4 separate regions of the Homo sapiens genome follow, and regions 2, 3 and 4 are each linked to region 1. Evidence: fine-mapped expression QTL. A gene starts in region 1. Each other region holds a variant in brackets. All regions are shown on one strand. Distances are from middle to middle. Region 1 holds the start of PLB1 (phospholipase B1). Region 2 has its middle 33 kb from the start of PLB1. Region 3 overlaps PLB1 (phospholipase B1). Region 4 has its middle 26 kb from the start of PLB1.

Evidence for each region.
Region 2: its variant is fine-mapped to the expression of PLB1 in whole blood (INTERVAL, PIP above 0.99).
Region 3: its variant is fine-mapped to the expression of PLB1 in blood mononuclear cells (TOPMed, PIP 0.95).
Region 4: its variant is fine-mapped to the expression of PLB1 in whole blood (TOPMed, PIP above 0.99).

Annotation. Positions count from the first base shown.
Region 1 is chr2:28,493,585-28,497,746 of GRCh38, forward strand. It overlaps PLB1 (phospholipase B1), which reads left to right and starts at 2,476. Exons shown (of 58, transcript NM_153021.5): 1 at 2,476-2,585. The coding sequence starts at 2,531.
Region 2 is chr2:28,461,288-28,465,449 of GRCh38, forward strand. No RefSeq gene overlaps it. Among named protein-coding and RNA genes, the nearest start is that of PLB1, 33 kb to the right of the region's middle. The variant T/C (reference allele first, on the strand shown) is at 1,974.
Region 3 is chr2:28,606,369-28,610,530 of GRCh38, forward strand. It overlaps PLB1 (phospholipase B1), which reads left to right. Exons shown (of 58, transcript NM_153021.5): 43 at 128-199. Among named protein-coding and RNA genes, the nearest start is that of PLB1, 110 kb to the left of the region's middle. RefSeq lists enhancers at 1-540, 541-1,171, 1,172-1,803 and a silencer at 1,018-1,185. The variant C/T (reference allele first, on the strand shown) is at 1,680.
Region 4 is chr2:28,467,684-28,471,845 of GRCh38, forward strand. No RefSeq gene overlaps it. Among named protein-coding and RNA genes, the nearest start is that of PLB1, 26 kb to the right of the region's middle. The variant C/A (reference allele first, on the strand shown) is at 2,455.

The DNA.
Region 1 (4,162 bases):
GGAGCACCTGGGTGATTATTGCTAAAATCTGAAATGGAGAATATTTCTCATCCCCTTTTATAGGACATGTCCTCTTAGGACATTTTCTAGCAAAAGTCAGAGAACAAAAGTTTATGGACAAGTGATGGAGCCTTTGACTTCAGACGACTTTCCCCTTGTTTTCATAGCTGCTACTAGACCACATAAATAGTAGGTGCCAGTTAAGCTGCGATGCTGTAAGGGTGCCAAGAGGCTGGGCGACGTGGCTCATGCCTGTAAACGCGGCACTTTGGGAGGCCAAGGTGGGAGGATTGATTGAGCCCAAGAGTTCAAGACCAGCCTGGGCAGTATAGTGAGACCTCATCTCTGTTTTTCAAAAAAATTTTTAAAAAGAGTGTCTAAGAAATGTTGCTTCCCCTACAGCCTCACAGTTGGTGAGGATTCCTTGATGCATGGATGGAACTCAGAGATTTATTCTACCTAAAAGGACATCCAGTCTATCCCATACCAAAATGCCTTCCCAACATTCAAATGTTTTTAAGGCATTTCTCAATTTTTCTAAATGTGAAAGGAGTTAGAGGAAGGATGGTAACCCAGTTGGGCTGTGGTAGTCCTGGAGAGAAGCAGTTAAGAGATGGAGCGAGTACCTGGAGCGTGGAACCAACTTACTTCTGCGCATGCCCCATGTCCTTTCCACCCCACCTCCAGCTGGCCTGCACATGAGTGGGGACCTTGGCCTATTCAGCCCAGGCAAGTTCAGTGATGCTCCTCAAAGCTGCTGGTGGCATGGAGCTGGGTAAACTCCTGACATCCTTAGTGGGACAGCAGCTCTGGCTTCTCATTGAACTTGGGGGCAGTTTGGTGAAGTTGACAAGTGTCTACATATCCAGGGGCATCTGTGCTCACTTGTCCCCCACAGACCTTGGCCTTGGGTGTATTTTCTTCTTCCTTTTCTGTGTGTCTGTGTGTGCTGCCCTCTTCTAGGCTCTGGAACTAGCTGATGGCCAGCTGGACTAAGTGTGTCAGTGTCCACACACCTCTGGCATGTCCCAATACCCCCCTACAGTCCTGAGGCTTAGGCTAAGCCTTTGGCATTGGCTAAATCAGTGGTGACCCACAAGTCACATATTTTCTGAGCAGTTGAGAAAGGGAGACAACATCCTAAAACCAGAGATTCAGGAACAAAGGGCCACTCACTTCGTCTTCACTTTCTACTCAAGACAATAGAGGTTATAACAGTAATTAAAAACAATTTTTTTTTAATTGAGATGGAATCTTGCTCTTGTCCAGGCTGGAGTGCAGTGGTGCAATCATAGCTCACTGCAACCTTGAACTCTTGGGCTCAAGCAATCCTCTTGCCTCAGCCTCCCAAGTACCTGGGACTACAGGTGCATGCCACCATGCCTGGCTAATTTATTTTTATTTTTTGTAGAGATGGAGTTGCCCAGGCTGGTTTTCAAACTCCTGGGTTCAAATAATCCTCCTTCTTTAGCCTTCCAAAGTGCTGGGATCACAGGTGTGAGCCACTGTGTCTGGCTGTGATTTTTAAATATGAGAAAAGTGGGTCAGCCAGGAGATCAGAATCTGAGGTTGGGTCATGGGAACCAGCCCTAGAGTCTTAGCTAGACCTCAGAAGTCAGGATCCCAGCCTCACACCCACAAGCATGGCCAGAAAGCAAGGATAATTTAAATATATTTGTTCCTATCAACCAAGGCAATTGTTTCTTGATATTTGTGTAAAAAATTTAAATTCTACTCTCAAGGGTATTTGTCACTCAGGCTTTAAATGCCAGCTTTGTCTGCCCAGTTTAGACCCAGCCTGCATTCCTGACTTAGTTTACCCAAAGGAAACGGCTGATTTTGTCAAACTTGGTTCCCCCTCTCTGGCTTGTATCTCTGAATTCAACATGCAGACAACAAATCTATGGTGTGCACATCCACCCAACACAACTGGCCACCCATGGGTTTGGAGATGGGGGGAACAGAACAAACCTCTCTGTGTCATGCAAACCAGGGAACCTAGCAGAGCTTCTGAGACACGGTGGGAACACGTTTCACATTTGGAGGTAGGTTTATGGTTTACATTTGTTACAAGGTACTTTTGATCTCCTGGCTTACAACTGAGAAAGCTGAGGCCACGTTAAGGGATACACCCAAGTTCCCACAGCTGTGGTTGATTTGGAATTCCGACCAGCACCTGGGATTCCCAGGCCCACGTTCTTCCCAGCAGACCCGAACACCGGCAATTTCTGGGCACCCACCATCATGGAAGGCTGTATGGAGGCAGCTATGCGGCCCTGGTCTGTCAGTGTCTATGACTAGAACATGCTACCCATCATTGACTCATCTGCCTTAAGAACTCTTCCGCCTAAGTGTTAATATTTATCATTTACAGCCCGCCACTACCCCCTTTCAAAGGTGAACACAGTAAAATTTATGACAGGTGCTCTATCAGAACACAGAGGAACATAAAAGCAGGAGGAGGTGTGATAGCCCATCCATCTGCTGGAGCAGCTCTTCCAGAGGCCCGAGTCACCTGGAGCATTCTGGCATGGGGCTGCGGCCAGGCATTTTCCTCCTGGAGCTGCTGCTGCTTCTGGGGCAAGGTAAGCGTGCCTTTTGCTCAGAGGACAACCAGTGGTTTAGCCCCGCTGGTGTCCCATGTTGCTTAGGCAATGGGTGTGTGAGAGGAGTGTGTGCTTTTGAAGAGATAAAGCACAAAGCGTACAGTTCAAGAATAAGAAGTCTGGTTTGCCTCCTGCGGAATGGGATGCAGAGGCTGCCTACACAGGGTTACATGTCCCAAAGGCTGCCGGGAGCGAGGCAGATCTTGGGACAGGAGAGAAGTGCAGTCCGGTAGCAGTACCATGGTACAAAAAAAACCCCTGGATTCTATTTGTTTGTGCTTTGTGGCTTTGGGCAAGTTCTTCCACCTCCCTGGACCTTGATTTTTTTCATCCTTAAAATGGAAATACTACTACTATGCACATTTTGATCATTACTATTACCATTTATGAGCTTTGTTTTGTTTTTGAAGGACAAAGGAAGACAGATTTCCAGATGATAAATTCTAAAAGATTGCCTACATTCTTTAGTGCTGCTAAACAGAGTGCTGAGCTTTCATTGAACTGAGTGGGCAACCAGCCAGGGCTTTCCATTCCCCCCAACATTAATGACTGTGGGTAGATTGTGCCTCTGCCACAATCCCTCTCTGCCCCTCTTCTTCCCATCATTGGCTCTCCCTTTGCTTAGGAAGGCAGAATCTTTTAAACTGAAAAGGGCCTTAAAGATCTTTCATCTTCTCCAGATGAGAGGACGGGGTCTGGAGTGAGAAGGCACTTGCCCTTGACTCCCCAGAGAGAGTGGAGGAGGCATGGGACAGAGTCCTGGGCCTGCCTAGGGTCTGAGCCCATGCTTGAGGCTTCTCTGGGGCAAGTCAGTTACCGCTCTGAGCCGTGGGGGAGAATGACGATGCTTGCTATGCCTTCTGCACAGGATGATTGTATTTCTTTGATTACTGATGAGGCCAAGGAGTGTTTTCATAGAGATTGTTTGAGTTTCTCTTTTGTGAAGTGCCTGTTGAAGTCTTTTTCCTATTGATTTTTTAGGAGTTCTCCATATATGCTGTGTACTAGCTCTTTGGAGGTTACATATATGACAAATATCTTGTTCCACTCTGAAGCTTGTCCTCCTATGGGGACTTTTGATGAGCAAAATTCTTAATTTTGTGTAAATAAATGTAGACTACCCAAATGAGGACAAACAGAGGCTACTTATTCAGAGCTCGCTGTAGCGAGACATCACTTATGTTTGGCCAAGATTCAAAGGCAGGCAGGGGAGTGGGAAAGTTTCACAGTGGAAAAAAGGGAAATCTTCAGATCTGCTCTGGTTGGAGGTTGTTGGTATCAGGGACCAGCTGACTAGAGGCACGGCATCTGAAGTTATCCAGTTGGGAGTGTATCTGGCTTTCTCTGAGGGGTCCTGAGTTGGAAGCAGAGCAAAAAATAGAGAAGATGGCAGTCATTAACCAAACCTGACCATTCTGGGCTGATTGCTGCAGAGGCTGCAGTTTGGTTCTCTGGCCTGGCCGATTGCAGACTGTGGCTCAGAGTTCTGTTATCATATGTGGTCCCACCGTTGTCCATTTGTATATTCTCTATTTTTTTTTTTTTTGAGACAGAGT
Region 2 (4,162 bases), 32 kb before region 1:
GTATCTGGGTCCACATCACCCGGGGCCTTTGTAGACTGTGCTAAGGACTCGTTTCTTTTCCTTGATAAGGTAGAAGGCCAGTGGAGAGTGTTGAGCAAAGAGTGAAAAACTGGCATAGGTGTTAAAAGGTTTCCTTGGCTGCTATGTGGAAAATCACCAGTACAGTACCAGGAGTAGAAATAGGAGATCAGGGCTGAGTGTGGCAGCTCACACCTGTAATCCCAGCACTTTGGGAGGGCGAGTCAGGAGACCAGCCTGGGCAACATACTGAGACCCCACCTCTACAAAATAAAATAAAATAAAATAAATAGGAGATCAATGAGTAGGCTATTGCAGCAATCCAGGTGTATTCAAAACTCTTCTAGAAATAAGAAAAAAAAAAACAAAACAGTGGCTTGGACCAGGAAGACAAAGAAAGGCAGAAAAAATGGTCAGATTCTGAATACATTTTAATTTGAAGGTAGAAACAAGAATCCTTGTTGGGGTGTAAGAAAAAGAATGAATGCCATGGTTTTTGCCTGGGAACCATTAAGCCGGTGTTTCCATCACCAAGACAGGCAAGTCTATGGGAAAAAGCAGGTTTAGGTGGGTCAGAGTGGGAATCAGGATTTTTGTATTGACCTAGCTTTTTACTGTTTCCCACACTCTTCCTTTGTTTCTAATGATCCACATTTGTCTTCTGTATTGTTGCCTTTCAGCCTGAGAACTTTCTTAAGCATTTCTTGTAGTGAAGATGCTAATGGTGAATTCTTTTAGTTTTCTTGTTTTTGGGGAAATTTCTTTGTTTTACCTTCATTTTTGAAGGATATTTCATAAATCTGGGTTTGAAAAACTGGCTTCTGCCCTCCATGGTTTCTGATGAGAAGTCACCAGTGATTTGATTTTTTTTCCACCCCATGTGTAACATATCTTTTTTCTTGGGCTGTGTCAAGATTTCCTCTTTATCTTTGATTTTTAGCAGTTGGACTATGATGTGCCTAAGGGAGATTTTCTTTGTATTTATCCTACTTGAGGTATGCTGGGTTTCTTGAGTCTGTAAATGCATGTCTTTCACCAAATAAGGGGAAATTTTAGCCATTGTTTCTTCAAATATTTTCTCTTCTTTTATCCTGTAGTCTTTCTTTTTTCCTTCTGGGGTTTCATTTCACATGTTAAACATTTTGATACTGTTTTTACAGGCTCTTGAGGCTCTGTGTTTTTGTTGTTGTTGTTTGTTTTCAATCTTTGTTCTCTTTGTTGTGATTGGATACTTTTTGTACTGATCTGATTTCAAGGTTGTTGACTCCTTTATTATCTGAACACTGTTGTTAAGCCAAACTGGTGAATCTTTTATTTCAAACATTATCTTTTCCAGTTCTAGAATTTCTATTTAGTTTTCCTCTAAATCAAGTTTCTCTGCTGAGGTTTCCTATCTTTTTATTTGTTGTACATGTATCATCCTCAGCTTGCAAAGCATAGTTATAATAGCTACTTGAGAATTATGATTTTGTTAATTCCAATATCTAGGTCATCTCAGGGTCAGTCTCTGTTGATTGTCTTGTCTCTTAAAAATGGATCACATTTTCCCTGTTCTTCATATATGAAATAATTTGGATATTCTGAACATTATGATTGTTAAGTTGTGGAGACTCTGGATTCTGTTATTTCCCCTAACTGCTGATTTTTTTTTTTTTTTAATATAGATTCTTAGTTTGTCACTCAGGCTGGAGTGTGGTGGCACAATCATAGCTCACTGCAGTCTCAAACTTCTGGGTTCAAGCGATCTTCCCACCTCAAGCCTCCCAAGTAGCCACCATGCCTGGCTACTTTTTTAAATTTTTATTTAAATTTTATTTTTTGTAGAGAGGTGTCTCGCTATGTTGCCTAGTCTGGTCTCACACTCCTGGCTTCAAGTGCTCCTCTGGCTCCAGCCTCCCAAAGCACTGGGATTAAAGGATTGAGCCACTACGTCTGGCCAAATGCTGATTTTTAAA[T/C]TTTGTTTTGTTTTAAGCAAGCTATTAACTTGGTTGGATCAAGCTGTAAACCATCTCTTGAGCACCAGTTTAAATCTCAGTTTAGTTTGTACATTCTTATCTGGGCTGCTTGAGCCTGCCTCATGCATGCATGGACTAGGAATTGGCCAGAGATTTGGACAGTTTATACACAGAATTTGTGGTTCTTCTTCTCTGCGTCTCTCTGTTTATGGATTCTCCCTCTCACTTTCCAATGGCTGTGGTTGCCTCGAACTCTATCCTTTGATTCTTTAGGCCAGAAGGACTGCAGACTTTCTATCATCATTTTATCTGCCCTGTGTGACTCTACCATGGCCTGCCTTTTGGATAAAAGCCATAAAAACTGTGAAACTCATCGCATATGCATCTTCCTTTTCCAAGTAGTAACTCCTCTCCAGAAACTGCCTGCTTTTGTTCACACTCCAGGGCCTTCAGGTCGTTGTTTTTCCTATTTTGTTCAGAGTTTATGGTAGTTACCTGTAGGGGTTTATACAGCAGGAGCTCACTATGCTACCCTGGAAACAGAACTGCGAGAAGTTTTGTTTGGACACATTACATTTCAGATGGTCACAAGATATGCAAGTGAAGATGTGCACTAGCCAGTTGGATGTATGCACCCGGAGCTCTGGAGATAAATCATTTAACATTTGACAGGGTATAGAAGGTATGAAGAGTCATGTGTGTGGGTAAAATCACCTAGGCCGTGAGTGTAGATGCATAAGAGAAACAGGTCCAGAACCCAGATCAGTGCACTCCAGTGTTTACACACCAGCATGATGAGGAAGAAGTAAGAATGCAGATGAGAAAGAGTGGGCAATGTCGAAAGAGGAAAACCACAAGAGCGTTGTCTTGAAGTCAAAATGAAGAAAGTATTTCAAAAAAAGACAGAGTGACCAAAGGTATCAAATGCTGTTAATGGCTTAAGTAAGATAAAGATGAAAAGTTCACTACTGGGTTTAGCAACATGAAGGTCCTTGGTGAACTGACAACAGTTTTGTTCCAGTGGAAGACTCAGAACTCACTGAAACGAAGACTTGAATCCATAAGTTTGGAGAAAGCTTTCAAGAAATTTTAACTGCCAAGAGAATAGAAAAATAGGATTGAAGCTGGAGGGGGCTATGAGGTCAAGAGAAGTTATGTTTTGATTTTCGACATTGGGAAAAATTATATCATGTTGGTATGCCAGAGGGCATAATTGAGAGGGGATCATTGATGTGTCAGGAAAGTGAGAGTTGGGCCGGGTGTGGAGGCTCACACCTGTGATCCCAGCACTTTGGGAGGCCAAGGTGGGAGGATCATTTGAGCTCAGGAGTTCAAGACCAGCCTGGGCAACACAGAGAGACCCCATCTCTAATTTAAAGGAAAAAAAAGAAAGTGAGAGTACAGAATCCTGTGCTCCAATGGAGAGCCAGCCTTAGATAGAATTGTAGGCAGCTCATTCATAGCAACTGTCAAATCCACACCATCATTTTTTGTCAGTTCCTTCAGTCTGCAGATGATATTAAAGAAACCTATTCAATAAGTTAAGCAATTCAGGAATATGGAGACAGGGGATACAGACTATGCCACTAATTCATTGCCATACCCCAGGCGATCTTATGGAAGAGGCACTAAGGGGCTGAGATGGAGGGATGGAGGGAACAGGACTGGCCATGGGGTGGACTCCAAAGACATGATGCATGCAGAAGTTCCTGGCTTCCTCCTGGGCTAGGGTGAGGAGTGTGGCCAATATGCAAGTGTCAGGATGGTGGTGGTCACGGTGGGGAGGTATGTCTGCGAATGGTGGGACACACAGACCTCATTTGAGAAAACGGATAGCAGCTTCCCGAGGAAAGTCTGGAATCTGCCTGTGCACTCTGCTGTGGCCTCTTCGACTCAGGAATGAAGCCCATCAGAGCTTGGTCCCAGGCCTGGTTGTCACCTTGCTCCCATCAGGATTGCACTTGGTTGCCATCTTGCTCCACCCCTGGCCAGATAAAATTAATCTGAGACAGGATTTGGCTCACAGAGCAGGGTTGCCCCCACTCTGTCTCTGACCTAGTGGCTTTCAAACTCGTTTTCACCAATTTTACATCGTAATTTGGTGCACATACATATATGATATATAGACTTACATAGTATTGAAACAAAACTTTAATGAAACATTTGGTCATTTAATCACTTGTGATGCG
Region 3 (4,162 bases), 110 kb after region 1:
AGAAGTGGGAGCCAAGCCCCCTGAAATCGAGTTCTGAGCTTTCCCCACTGCAGGATTCTGCCAGGGAATGTTCACTTCCATGGAAACAAACTACTACACCCGTGTCTCTCTTTTCTTCCCTGATCAGCTTGAACCACTTGGAAGCAAAACAGAGACCCTGGACCTGAGAGCAGAGATGCCCATCACCTGTCCCACTCAGGTAGTAGGGGAGGACCTGCCTGGCTCCTCTCCACAAACCAGGGCACACAGCTCGCCCTACCCACTTCGTCCTCCACCACAGCTTCCTCAGTACCCATCTTGCCCCCTTACTGAGGCCTGAGAGATTTGGAGGATGGAGGGGAGTCCATGAGGATGGACAGGGGAGGTGAGAGGGGAGACAAGAGTGCAGCTGTCATTGGGAACAGGAGATGCAGCAGGGAGAGGAGGCCTGGGCCCCAGCAGAGGGAGAGGATCCCGGTGAGAAAAGTGGGCTCCTGAGAGAGGAAATCAGGATGCCAGGAAAATGGCAGGAGGGCTTCTCTTAGCAGTGGTGTTTGGGGCAGATGAAAAAATCTGACTGCAGGTTAGAGGGCCCAGGCAGGAGCCAGGCAGGCTTAAGAGCTGTGGTTGGAGAGAGGAGAGCCTGGATTAGGGAGATTCCACAAGGAAAGGATCACAGAGGACAGCAGCAAAGGGCAGAGCCCAGAGCTGTATGGAGGAGGGACGAGGGTGGGCCTACCAGGACACGGCAGCTCCAGGCTCCTTTTAAGGAGGAATCCGTAAGTGGTTGTTAAGCTTGACTTCAGGCCTGGGGTGGGGGCAGGTTCTCATTGTCTTCAGCTCCTGTTTCTAGGCCCGGTCTTATGGCTTTTTAACCAAATAAGGCCAAGGCCAGAAAACCCTCAGCAGCAATAAAAGCAGAAGGCCTGACCCAATCTGGGAGGCTGGGTTTCCCTCCTAGGTCGGCCACACCACCCTCTCCCACCCTCCCTGCTGGGGAATGGACCTGCAGCTCCCCCATGTGTCTGCTGGGAATCCTGAGAGAGTGGGCACCCCTGTTCACATGCCTGCTCCCTGTCTGCTGCCTGCCCTACCCCAGTCTTGGGCTCAGGCTCAGTCTTGTGTGCCATCAGCCCCATCAGGAGAGCAAGAATGGCAGGAAGAAGGGATGGGAAGTGAAGACAGTCGTAGCAGAGGGCTCAGTTGCTGGGTCTTGTGCTTGGAGCTAAGGAGATTGTCAGATTCTGCAACAGCTAGTGCAACACAGATGCCTCTAGTCCAGGTGGTCAGGTGCTGGCCAAAGGCCTGGAGCAAAACCTTAGAGGCCCCTACTGTGCCAGGTGTAAACTCTTTAACTGCTTTCCTAAGGATGCCTGGGGGTTCTAGGGGAGCAGCCAGGGACCGTGGATAGTGGGGGCATTTGGGGACTCAGAAATAGCCATATTGTAGATATGTCAATATTTTACCAACCCTATAGCCATACTGAATATCAGCCATGGAGGGCCCTTTCCAAACTGTCCACTCCCCTTCCATTACATAACAAAAGCAGCCATCATTTGCTCTTTCTTTCAACAAACGTGTATTGAGTACTGAGTTGGAGCCTAAGCACTGGGTCAGGGAGAGCCCTGTCACCCTGGGCTTCGAGGCAACCACTTCCAGGCTTTACCCCAGATCAGGCAGAGACCCCCAAAAGGAGGCTG[C/T]TCCACCCAGCAGCATCTTAAGCTGAGTGGGCTCAGTGCCTCCCTTCTAGACAGAGCCCAATGGAGCCACTGCACTGATTTGCAGAGGTGAGCAGATCCAGCCTCGTGGAACCAGTAGAAGCCCAGCCCTGGTGAAGCTGTTGCTAAGCAACATTGGAGCCCATTCTGAAAGGGTCCATCTGTTGGCCAGCCCAACTTCACTGTGTTCTGAGCATTCTGCATTCCTCAGTCCCATCTGCTCCCTCCCATGTGCCTTGGAGTGATATAAAAGTCCACCAGCATCTCAGTGTGAGCTGACAGGGGCCAGGCAGCACCTATTTTTGTCCTAGATGTGTCTAAACATAGAGGCAACAGGCAACAGGCAAGACGCAGTGGGGGGCGGGAGGCAGGAGGCCGAGATGGCTGTGAGCATGAGCTTTCTCAGCCTCCTCCCTTCTCCCATCCGCAGTCTAACTGCTCATACGTTCTGTGTGCCAGGTAGGGTGACTTAACAGCACGCCATGGATTTCTGTTGTAGTTTCAAGTTGGACAAATTCTTTTACAGACAACTTTTGACTAGCCTTCTGTGGACTGAGCCTATACTCTGCCTTAATGGGCTCTCTGCCCACTCCTTTCCTAACCCCAGGGCAGCTGGCTGAACACCTGGTCCTTTTCTTAGGTTTCATTCTTTTTGACCTCTCTGAAGCCCTTGTCAAAAGTCACCACCTCCCCCTTGAAATTCACTCCTTCCTGGGTTTGTGGACACTAAATCGCCTTGATTTTTCTGGTCTTCTGTTTGCTTGCCTTTAATGACCCTCCTCCTCCCTTTCCCCAGTCTTGAAAATGTAGATATTCTCCAATTTTCATGTCTCCATTCTATTTTCTTTCCTTTTTCACTCACTTTTTGAAACAGGGTCTTGCTCCGTCTCCCAGGCTGGAAGTGCAGTGGCGCAATCACAGCTCTCTGCAGCTTTCAACTCCTAGGCTCAAGCCATCCTCCCACCTCAGCCTCCTGAGTAGTTGGGACTGCAGGCATGCACCACCATGCCCAGCTAATTTTGGTTTATTTGTTTTGGTAGAGGTGGGGTCTTGCCATTTTGCTCAGGCTGATTTTGAACTCTGGACTCAAGTGATCCATCAGCCTTGGCCTTCCAAAGAGCTGGGATTACAAGTGTGAGCAGCTGTGCCCGGCCTCTGTTTTCTTTTCTCTCTCTCCACATCCTCTCACTCTGAGACTTACCCATTTCCAGGATTTCCTGTAAAATTTCTTTGTGCTGGATTCCTCAGTCTCTCAATCTGTGTCTTCATTTCTCCTTTCCCGAACTCCAATCCTCTATTTCTGACCTTTAAAATACATTTCCCCTTGGATGCTCTATCTGGTATAAGGTTACCCAAAAGGCAGATTAATGTATGATCAAGCAGGAGGGGGCTGAAATAAGTTCATGTATCATACCCTATCTTTTCTTATGAGAAAAAGCCGAAGTTTATCAAATTCCCTTAAACTTAGTTTGTTGTTTAGCAGTGCTTCTGTATTGAATTACATATAAGTGACATTGTTATCTTTTTGACGCTCAGAGCTTCTAAATCCAATCCTGCCATGACCCCACCACCATCTCAAGCTTAACATTCATTCAAAAAATAATTTTCTGAGCAAGGAGTGTCTAAATAGGAACTAATTCTTTGTCTTCCCAAACTCTCTGTTCCTTAGGAGTTCTCTATTTCTGCCAACTTCATTAGGGTTTTCAAGCTCTACAGGCATGAAATGTCAGGGACCCTATCTAATCGGATTCTTACCAGTCCTCCAGAATCTAATAGGATTCTTCCCACCTGTCCCTCTTCCTTTTCCCACTGCCACTGCAGGGGCTCAGATTCTCATCACTTTGTACGTTAAAGGCTAACTAGTCGCACCTTCCCACCATGAAACAATAGACTTATGTAATCTTAGGTTCTCAGTGGGGAGGGCCTTAGACTTCTGTGGATGCAATCTCTCATAGAATAATGGAATTCTTCTACCACATCCCTCCCAAGACACCCTATGGCCTCTGCTTAAATGTTCACACTTTCTTTTTTATTTATTTATTTATTTGACTTTAAGTTCCAGGATACATGTGCAGAAGGTGCAGGTTTGTTACATAAGTATACATGTGCCATGGTGGTTTGCTGTACCTATCAACCGGTCATCTAGATTTTAAGCTGTGCATGCATTAGGTATTTGTCCTAATGCTCTCTGTCCCCAAATGTTCACACTTTCTTACCACCTGAAATCAGTGTAGGTAAAGAACCAGCACTTTTTTTTTTTTAATTAATAGTGATGGGGTCTCACTCTGTTGCCCAGGCTGGTCTCAAACTCCTGAGCTCAAGCAATCTTCCCACACTGGCCTCCCAAAGTGCTGGGATTACATGTGTGAACCACCACACTCGGCCGGAACTAGCACTTTTTGAATGGAATGGGATAGAAAACCTCTTAGGACATCCCGTGAAATACCATTATGTCCTCCTGCCTC
Region 4 (4,162 bases), 26 kb before region 1:
TAATAATGTGAAACCCTCCTTGGAAATTAAGCCATTCATCAATTCACTCAGCCATTTTGCTAATTTATGAAATGCAGACTTTGGGCCATACCCCGCACCTCTCCTTTGGGGGAGGCAAAGGAGCAGAAGCCAGGCTGGCTGCCTTTTTGGAGCTTTCAGCCCTGGGTAGGGAGAAGAATCAGGCCCACATCTAATCAGGAACCAAAGCAGGACCAATCGAGTGGCAGGTGAAGGGCTCAGGCAGCAAGGGCTTGGGGGTTCAGACACCAGGGTGGTTAGAAAGAGCTTCATGGAGGCAAAGGGCAAGGAGAGGATAGAGTCAGAAGGTGGAGGTCTGGGGCCTGGCCAACAGGCAGAACAGACTATCAGATGTAGTTTGGGATGTCAGGAGAAGGAGCCTTCATTTCACTCCTTCCTTGTACCAATGGGAGGAGTTTAAATTCTAGGTCTTCTTAAATTTTTTAAATTTTAAACATTTTTTGAGACAGGGTCTTTCTCTGTCACCCAGGCGGGAGTGCAGTGGCAGGATCATGGCTCACTACCTCCCAGGCTCAAGGGATCCTTCCACTTCAGCCTCCTGAGTAGATGGGACCACAGGCACACAGTCCAACTATTTTTTTTTTGTAGAGATGGGGTCTCGCCATATTGCCCAGGCTAGTCTTGGACTCCTGTTCTCAAGCAATTCTCCTGCCTCGGCCTCCCAAAATATTGGGATTCTAAGTATGAGCCACCTCTCCTGGCCTCTAGGTCTTAATCTACATTCTAATTCATGGCTTTATTCACTTCAACACATTTTTATTGAGCAGCTACTCAGTGCTGCGCTGCTAGGTGCTGGCAACTGGGGCTATAGAAAGGCAAAGTTCTCAAGGACTCCTGCATCTATACAAAGACAGACCTATGATCCACAAAAGACTGAGGATCAGGGCTATTCTGGGGGCACAGGGTGCCAGTGGGCCTGGCCAGAGGAGGGACACCAAGGAAGTTAGGGGAAATGGCAGGGTGGTTTTCCAGGGGCACGGATTGCATTTGAAGTAAGAGTTATCCAGGCGGGGGAGGAGGGAGGGAAGGGGGTGGTCTCTGCTGAGAAATTACCGTATGCAAAGCCTCATAAATGATGAGTGCTGGGTGCATTTAGTCTAACTGGAGTATGAGGCATAAGGGCATGGTTGGGTAGAGGGCAGGAAAGGGGGCTGGGAGATGAACCCCAGAAATGTCCTTTCCATTTGTCTGGGGGCTCCGGGAGGCTGCTGGACTGCTGATTAACTAATTCCCCAATAAGCCTTCAAGTGAGGCCCAGTCCAGCTGGACAAGAGCTCCCCTTGTCACTGTGTGTGGTGACACCTCTGATTTGCCTGGTCATTTAGTTCTTCTCTTAGGAAGAGGGCTGGATAAGGAGAGACTCTGCTCACCGCCTTGAGTGGGTTCTCTTTGCTTTGAGTTGTGTGGACTTCTGTGAGTAGACACCTACTGTCCTGGGGGAAGGACAGGCATGATGGGACGGTTTGGACCCCGTTCTCACACGTTCCTTTGCAGGTGGAGCTGGAAGGCTGCTGGGAAGGAGGTGTCAGCTGTGCAGTGGCCCTGAGCAGCCTCAGGAACCTGCCTCCTGCTTGCTGGGGACCATGATTTCTCACATCTCTAAGAGATGAAGGCAGATCCTCTGAGGTCAGCTGGTGGGAGAGAACCCTGGGGCCTTAGGAAGGAAACTCTCTGAGCCTGGGAGATGCTGATCCAGTGCCCCTGGCCTAGCCAATCAGGGCCACTCTGGGTGTGCTGGAAAGAGAGGCTTCTCTTCTCTCCCCATCCTTGGAGGGATTTTGGCTGGATACTGGCCAGCAGGCATTGCCTTAGTCATAGTGATGGCAGGGAACTGGGACAGCCCTGGCTGTGTGATTTCCACAGCCACCCCCACAGGGCCTCAATTCTTCAGTTTTCTATCCCAAGGGGACTAGTTGGAAGATCACTGACTGCTTAAACTGAGTAAGTCCCTGGGGGAAGGTGGATTTATGGAAGAGCAAATTCTTGAAAAGGGAGAGCGTGGGCTAAAGCCATGTATTTATTTACTTATTTATTCATTCAATGTTTTGTTTTTTCTTTACTTGTTTAAAAAAAAACACTTCATCTCTTTGAAAAAATAGAAATAATACAGAAATCAACAAAGCCAGAAAAATGTTCCCCCTTGCGGGAAGGGTGAGCTACACACCCTGCCCACAAATAGAATGGGAAATGTATAATTTCCTGAAAAATGGAGCTAAAGCAGGAAAATCGAAGAAGAAGAAGAGGAAGAAGAAGAAGGAGGAGGAGGAGGAGAAGAAAGAGGAGGAGGAGGGAGAAGGGGAAGTGGGATGAAGAGGAGGGGGAAGGGGAGGAGGGGGAGAAAGAGGAGGAGGAAGGGGAGGAGGAGAGGGAGGAGGGGGAGGGGGAGGAAGAGGGGGAGAAGAAAGAGGAAGAGAG[C/A]AGGAGAGGAAGAGGAGGAGGAGGAGGAGGAAGTGGGAGGATATCCTTTCAAAGTTTTTGTTCTGTGCATACAAAAATATGAACACCTTAGGCCTCTTCCCATGCCAATAGTGTAACTCCACCTGGCCTTTGGCACCATTCATTCTGTTTGCACAGCACGAGAAGAAGGTCTGTGAGGAGCAGCCTGGCTGGTGGGCAGGTTCTGTCAGTTGCACGAGCACAGCTTCTTCTTTGGCTGTTATTGGGGGTCATCTCTGCTCAGCCAGGCCTTTCCCTGTCCAAGGTCACTCTGCTGCAGGCACAGGAGGAACCAGAAAAAGGCCAAAGTGGTCTAACACACAGGGGTGAGGTGTGAGGTGAGGTGCTGGGCTGGCCTCAGGGTCGGAAGGCAGGTGCTGGCAGAGAGGCGTTTGTTGGCTTTGGGCACTTCCAGCCACAGGAAGTGTTTGTTCTTTTCAGGACAGGGGAATCCTTATTTCCATTCAACAAAAACATTTTGTATAAGACCAAAAGGGGTGCAAAGAAGAGTTCTAATTGAGAGGAGTTTGCCAGCTCTAAAGAACGTCCAATTTGGGCGCTGTCAGAGAGACTCAGAATGTTCTGAAGCTCCACAGTTGGTGAGAGGGGACCAGAAACACACCCCAATGACAGGCACTCCTGAGGACAGACCAGGAGCAGGTGCTGTGCTGAGCACTCCATATACCTGATTCATTCCATTCTCACCTCTGAGCTAGGGATCGTCCCCTCCTCTCATGAACTGGGAAAGTTTATTACTCATTGAACAGACTCAGAAGGATGTGAAGTGACTTGCCCAGGTCCACATGGTTGGAAAGTGGCCAAGCAGGAATTAAGGGCCAAGGTCTCTGACTCCAAAGTGCACCCTTATGTGCATTTTGCTCTGAGACAGGTGGGGTTCGAGGTGAATCTGGAGGGCAGGAAGGGACTTATCAGGTGAAGGCAGGAGGAAGGCCTTCCAGGCTGAAGGTGCAGCTGGAACGAAGACACAGAGGCAGCGTGGCCCTAGAACTATGTGGCGGGCTCTGAGGGAATCTTTCAGGTTAAGGCTAGAGGGAGGGCTTGGGCTCAGGATGGAGGGCCCTGAGGGTCTGGGAGAGGGGCATGTGACCCTTCCAGAAGGCCACAGGCATCATGGGTGAAGGGAAGAGGCCCAAGCTGACAGCACTGAGGAGAAGCCCGGTGATGAGGGGAGGAAGGGAAGAAGCCAATGAAGAGTGCAGGAGGAGGAGCCTGCTGGGATATGGGCGGGAGCCAGGGCGGGGGAGGATCTGCCTCCCTCATGTGGCCACCACAGTGTTCTCAGGGATGAACTGCCTAGAAAGGCTTGTCCCAGGCTGAAGGTCCAGCTGGCAGAGCCCAGGGAGAAGCCCAAGGGCACCCATCATGCCAGCGAAGAGAGCAAGAGGCCAGCTGTGAGGGTGACAGGAAGAGGGAGAAAGGAGTTTGTGAACGGTTCAGGTAGGAGATGACCCTTTATCGATTTGGTTGTGGGGATGGAGAAGGGTGAGGTGTGATAAAAGCTGCAGTGCAATGCTTGGATCCTTCCCACAGCCCCCGCCCTGGCCAGGATGTGCTGTGTGTCTGTGTATCCAGGCATCCTAGTTAGGGCTGAAGGGACCCTCCTCGGGGAACATGTTCCTACAGGATGACATCTGTCCAATGTGGTTTTGGACCTGTGGTGCTGGCTGGT